Linked DNA regions of Homo sapiens. The protein of the gene in region 1 purifies or fractionates together with the protein of each later gene. This does not show direct contact. Each region holds a gene or a part of one and is shown on either strand. Other genes may lie near its edges.

Region 1 (3,243 bases):
AATAATTTGTTTCAAAGACGGTGATGAAAGGAAAAAAAAAGTTTAACTTTCCAAAGGTAATGCTTTCATGAAGAGTTAGAAATAGCAGTTTTAGTAATTAGTTGTAGGAATTCTGGTTAAGACTTCAACATTTTACCTTACTTAAAAGATTTGCTTTATGCAACATTTAATGCCCAGTTTTGCATGGCTCTAAAAATCTTTAAAATGCAAAAGCTTTTCCAGTGACTGGAAGCCAACACGACAAGAATGAAATGGTATGACCTGTGAATTAGCCTGGTTTATAAAAAAATACCAGTTCAGAGACCATAAACAAAATAAAGAAACTAAGCAATCCTTAAATTGGATTTAGCCTTGGGCAATTAGCAGAAAAATTCACTCATAAAAGGATCCATTTTACAGATATTGTTTTTTAAAATGTCAGGAACTGGTTTTATAAGAGTAAAAAAGTTAAAATTAATTGCATCTTCCATAAAGAATATGATGGAAATAATTATATACGAAAAATGAGACAATAAAAGTCCATTTATAAAGTGCCTTAATGTACCAAAAAAGGAGGTCAGATGTCCTTTATTTACAAATCATATTTAATCCCATTTACAGAAAGGCAAATATTACACTGGAGAGGCAGCATAATAGAGTATAAAGAACTCTCAACTTCGAGTCAGAAGATCTGAATCTTTTTGGCTTTGCCACTAATTTTCTCTGTGACTTTGAGCAAATGAGAGTTTTTCTGGGCTTCGGTTTTCTCATCTGTAAAATGAGAGGTAGAACTACACTGCTTCTAAAGCCAGTCCTTGCTTAGATGTAAAATTCTGTGTTAAGCAATGTAAATATGGTTCTTAAGTTTTGGAATTACATAACAGGGTTCTACCATATTAATAATCTCTGTAAAAACTGATTATTCCATAATAGGTAGGTAAAAACATTATAGAACTGTGATCAAATACATTTTGAGTTCATGATTTGGCTGCTGTACAAAGGTGCAAAAAAGGCATAGCATTTTGGTTACTGATATACACGTGTAGGTTTTCAGGAATGCTGACAAATTCCAGATATAAGGGAAATGACAGCACAAGGAACACTGACCTACAGATAAACTAGATACTGTCCTTCACAAAGATGCATGGGGAGTTAGCAAACTGAGGAAGCTGTGGATATGTTAAGCCCTTCATCTTGAGGAATATAATCTATGTTTAAAAAACCAAAGCTAGTGGCTGAGCACGGTGGCTCACACCTGTAGTCTCAGCACTTTGGGAGGCCGAGGCAGGAGGATGACCTGAGGTCAGGAGTCCAAGACCACCCTGGCCAACGTGGTGAAACCCTGTCTCTGCTAAAAACACAAAAATTAGCCGGGCGTGGTGGCGTGCACCTGTAATTCCAGTTACTCAGGGAGCTGAGACAGGAGAATCACTTGAACCCGGGAGGTGGAGGTTGCAGTGAGCTGAGACTGCGCCACTACACTCCAGCCTGGGCGACAAGAGTGAAATTCCATCTAATACAAACAAACAAAAAAAACAAAAAAACAAAACCAAAGATAGTATAGCTATATTTCTGTTTGGGAAGGTTTACCAGGCAAGGTAAACTGTCCCTGAGCAATACAAATTTGTTGTCCAGAGAATATTTTGGCTTTTAAAATATTGGCAAAGTTACACTCAGATACGAGTTTTGTTTGGTTTTTTTAAGAGTTAGCTCAATATCAGGGACATTGTAAATTAATTTTATAACAATAATCTGGTAGTATTTCTCATTGGAATTATCTACTTTAGTAATATACATGTGCCAAGAACACTAATAAGACAAAATATTTCCTAAGAGTGACAAAAAGTTGCTTTTTCTCACTAATTTTTTACTGCTGCACACATAGGTATACTGGCATTTAATTAAAGCATAAATGTTAATGCCAACTTGCTAAATGATATGCGCTGGCAATGTAATGTAACAAATGCAAATTCACATCAGTCTAACACTGTATAAACATACTCATGCATTTGTGTACTGATAGTACAGTCAAATAAAATGATTCATATTTTGACAAAAACTAAACTTGGAATGGAGGGCTCTGTGAAAGGCAGACTTGGGTCTTCAAATATCTCCGTATGTGAAATATCAGTATTTATACATAATCAGTTTTTAAAGGCACACATCCAAAAGCTCCCTTCATCTAGATCTGTCATTTTCTCTATCTAATATGCCAAAACCCACAGAATATCCCAGAGTTCTCTCAGACTTGGTGGTGGTTGCAAACTTCTAATGACTACTTATATTTGTAGAAAAACCAGTACCATTATCAGGACACTTCCTTTTGAACTTTCCTGCTTAAAAGACCTCAACAGTTGTTTTAAGCACATACTACTGCAGTAAATCATAGATTTCAAACCACCTGGCAGTAAGCAAACATGTTTAGAAAATGCCACTTTGCCTGCGGAAAAGAGACTATTGATAGAGTTCACGGCAATCTGCAGCAGTTTAGAAAAGAATGAAGAAAGTGGTCTAGTTCTCCTAATAGAGAGTAGTTTATAGTTGTAGGTCAGAAATAGGGGAAAAGACACTCTAAAACTTAGAATCAACAGGGATTTCTGCCACATCACTAAAAAGTACTTATTGATCTACATTCTTAATAATTGTTTCCATCCTGCAGGGTTTTTTCTCCCACATTTACAATTTTTTTAAGTTAAAAGGGAATATGTATTGTAAAATGAAGTATAAGGGAAAATCAGATCATTTTCTCTTCATAAAACACAGAGAATACTTAAGTAGAGTGCTCAAGCACTTATCTCGAATTGCAATTTTATTTTTCAAATACGTAAGAACCTAGAAAATCAACTCAGCACTTACTTCCTAGATACCTGTGTTAGGAAAAGTTCTACATCACCACATTTCCTCTGTACCTTTAATAATTCAAACTCAATAAAATGCTGCTTTAGGATTCCTGAAAGCAATTGTATTTGTGCAAAGCCTAAACAGGAAAACAAAGTGGATGACTTGGCATTTGAAGAATGAAAAAGCCAAACAGCACTGTCACAACCATTTCTGCCTTCAGTCTCCAATGCCTTTTTCTTTCATTATAAAATCCATAGAAATGGCAAGGAAAGATATAGGAAAGTTTATCACAGATACAGTAGCTATTACAGAAATTTGGAATTCAGCAGATGTTTTAAGTCAAAATTTTCTGTGTAACAGATGAATTTGCAAAGTTTTGAAAACACAGTCCACAAAGTAATTTAAAATGTGATAATTAAATTT
Region 2 (3,659 bases), on another chromosome or scaffold:
CCTGGCTCTAGCTATGACTTTTAATGTTGAATCATTTCAAAATAGGTTATAAACATCATAACACTTCATCTCTAAATATTTCAACATGCGTTTCTTAAAAATAGGGACATTCACCTATGTAACCATGATGCCATTGTCATAGTTTAGACAATTCATGTTTTAATATATTAAAAATTTCCTGCCAGCCAGGCATGGCGCCTCACGCCTGTAATCCCAGCACTTTGGGAGTCTGAGGTGGGAGGATCAGTTGAGTTCAGGAGTTAGAGACCAGCGTAGGTAACATGGTGAAACCCTGTCTCTACCAAAAATGTAAAAAATTAGTGGTGGCGCATGCCTGTAGTCCCACCTACAAGGGAGGGTGAGGTGGGAGGATCATTTGAGCCTGGGAGGCAGAGGTTGCAGTGAGCCAAGATAAACACCACTGCACTCCAACCTGGGTGACTGAGTGAGACCCTGTCACCAAAAAAAAAAAAAAAAAGCCAATTTCCCGCCAGGCATGGTGGTTCATACCTATAAATCCTAGCACTTTGGGAGGCCGAGGTGGGTGGATTGCTTGAACCTAGGAGTTCAAGTCCAGCCTGGGCACCATGGTAAAACCCTGTCTCTACAAAAAATACAGAAAGTTAGCTGGGTGTGGTGGCATGTGCCTGTAGTCCCAGCTATGGCTATATTTTAAAAATTTATTTGTAGGCACAGGGTCCCAATATATTGCCCAGGCTGGTCTCAAACTCTTGGGCTGAAGGAATCCTCCCAGCTTGGTCTCTCAAAGTGCTGGGATTACAGGTGTAAGCCACTGCACCCAGCTTTATCTCCTGTATTTTCTTAAACTCTAACTTATTTCTACAGGCTTGATTAGATATAGGTTCAACATATTTTTGAGAAACTTTGTAGGTGATGTTATATACTTTATTTTCTGTATAAAGTACATAATGTCAGGTTATCCAGTATTAGTGATGCTAAATTTGATCAATTTGAGGTGCTGACAGGAACATCTTTTTCCATTTTCAGTTAGAGGTAATTTATGGAGTAATTGGCATTTCGTAAATATCCACTGTTGTTGATTCTTTCCTCAATCAGTTGTATTATTGAGGGTTACAAAATGATTTTTACCTAGTTCTATTGTAGTTTCTACCTTTGTTAGTGAATATTCTTCTTTAAAGAGTAGCTCTCCTGGGCTGGGTACAGTGACTCATGCCTGTAATCCCAGCACTTTGGGAGGCCAAGGTAGGCAGATCGCTTGAGCCCAGGAGTTCAAGAGCAGCCTGGGCAACATGAGAGCCTGTCTCTACGAAAAGATTGAAAAAACTTAGTTGGTGTGCTGCTGCGTGCCTGTAGTCCCAGCTACTTGGGAGGCTGAGGTAGGAGGTCACTGGAGCCCAGGAAGTCGAAGCTACAGTGAGCCGTGATCACAGCACCGCACTCTAGCCTGGGCTACAAAGTGAGACCCTGTCTCAGAAACAACAACAAAAAAGAATAGCTTTCCCATATTGACTGTTAGTCTTCCCAGAAAGCCATGTTAAATGCTAAAAGCTTAATTCATTATTTTCAATTACCAGTTTTCAGAACAAGGAGTTGATGTGGTAGTGACCTATGTTTGATATTTAAAGTGGTTTTTTTTCTTTTTTAAATTTAATTAATTTTTTTGAGGCAGGCTTTCACTCTGTTGCCCAGGCTGGAGTACAGGGGCATGATCTTGGCTCACCGCAGCCTCGACCTCCCGGATTCAAGTGATCCTCCCACCCCAACCTCCCAAGTAGCTGGGACTACAAGTACATGCCACCACACCTGGCCAGTTTTTCTGTTTTTCTGTAGAGACAGGGTTTTGCCATGTATCCCGGGCTGGTCTCAAACTCCTGGACTCAAGCAAGCCTCCTGCCTTGACTGCCCAAATTGCTGGGATTACAGGCGTGAGTAAGTGTTTTTAATATTAGAATTTAGAGTAATATATTGGTCTTTTTTTTTTTTTTTCCAGACAGGGTCTCACTCTGTCACCCAGGCTGGAGTGCAGTGGCATGAACACTGCTCACTGCATCCTTGACTTCCCAGGCTCAAGCGATCCTCCCACCTCAGCCTCCCAAGTAGCTGGGACTATAGGCATGCGCCACCACGCCTGGCTAACTTTTGTATTTTTTGTAGAGATGAGGTTTCGTCATGTTGCCCAGGCTAGTCTTGAACTCTTGAGCTCAAGCCATCCTCCCACCTTGACCTCCCAAAGTGCTGGGATTACAGGTGTGAGCCACCATGCCCGGCACTTATATTAGTCTTATGATTTCAATTTAAAATGTATAATTGACTGAATATTGATTTATACTTGTGAATTTAAATTGAAACCTTATTGCAGTTATTTTATTTTGTGGACATTAGAGAGTACCTAAGAGTCACTATAAGTTTAATTTTTTAGGTATGTAAGTTATTCTCAGGAAATTTTTTTTTCTTGACACATGTTAAAATACAAAAATTTTGTCTTTTTAAGTCTAGCAATTATACTTAAAATTGAATATATTGTTGGGGTTTGGTGGGGGGGTTGCAATAGTTCTCACTTGATAAATTTTTTTTTTTTTTAATTTAAAAAAAGTGTTTGGTACTCTACACTTTCAGAGAAACTTCTCCAGTAACAAACTGTAGAAATGATCCCTGAAAGTGTAGTCTTGGTAAAATTTTTTAAGTAGTTAACATTTTATGTTTGAAGATGTTATGTTGAAGGTGAACTTTGAAATGAGTTTAGACATTCATCACAGGCCTTTAAAATTAGACCTCCAAGTAGAATAAGTTGTCTAAGTTCGGTGTAAAAATTTGAGTAAAATCTAGGCTTTTTGAATTTGTAACTTTAATAAATTAAGTATTAATATTTTAAAACTAGAGTAAATCTCAGTCTTTTCTATGCATAAAAACTCCTCCTCTTAGATGTGAAAACAAAATACTCATCAGCAGTGGCAATATTCTGCTTTGCCTAGCTTCCTTAAAGCATGCTGATATTGTTTTTTCTTCTTTCAGTTTTTTGTTTGTTTGTTTGTTTTTTGAGGCAGTCTTGCTCTGTTGCCTAGGCTGGAGTGCAGTGGCATGATCTCGGGTCACTGCAATCTCTGCTTCCTGGGTTCAAGTGATTCTCCCGCCTCAGCCTCCTGAGTAGCTGGGATTATAGGTGCGCACCACCACGCCCAGCTAATTTTTGTATTTTTAGTAGAGATGGGGGTTTCACCATGTTGGTCGGAATGCTCTCAAACTCCCCACCTCGTGATCTGCCTGCCTTGGCCTCCCAAAGAGCTGAGATTATAGGTGTGAGTCACCGCGCCCAGCCTAACTTTTATATTTTTAGTAGAGATGGGATTTCACCATGTTGGCCAGGCTGGTCTCAAACTCCTGACCCCAGGTGATCCTCCTGCCCTGGCCTCCCAAAGTGCTGGGATTACAAGCCTGAGCCACCGTGCTGGCCATGCTGATATTATTGATTTGAATTTCTGTTCCTTTATTTCTACACTACTGGGCAGGATGCTCAATTCTGTAACATTGCTTGTTACAAATGGCTTATTCTTTGGGCTGCGAAGTGTGTGCTTTCCCATTTCTCCAGCTCCTCTTGTCCAGTGGAGGGAATATGGTTTAGTGAATAAACCATTTGAGGTTTTGGTAAGTCAAGTATACTTGTTCAGATGATAGAAATC

The links. The genes of interacting proteins can lie anywhere in the genome.
Region 2: the proteins of SLC30A7 (region 1) and CNOT10 purify together in Homo sapiens (affinity purification with mass spectrometry; one large-scale study listed by BioGRID and IntAct). This does not show direct contact.

What each region holds. Positions count from the first base shown.
Region 1 is NC_000001.11:100,976,023-100,979,265, reverse strand, and holds part of SLC30A7 (zinc transporter 7), read right to left. Parts: 3' UTR 1-3,243. UniProt on the Homo sapiens protein: Zinc ion transporter mediating zinc entry from the cytosol into the lumen of organelles along the secretory pathway.
Region 2 is NC_000003.12:32,691,591-32,695,249, forward strand, and holds part of CNOT10 (CCR4-NOT transcription complex subunit 10), read left to right. Parts: intron 1-2,573; exon of another isoform or gene 2,574-2,650; intron 2,651-3,659. UniProt on the Homo sapiens protein: Component of the CCR4-NOT complex which is one of the major cellular mRNA deadenylases and is linked to various cellular processes including bulk mRNA degradation, miRNA-mediated repression, translational repression during translational initiation and general transcription regulation.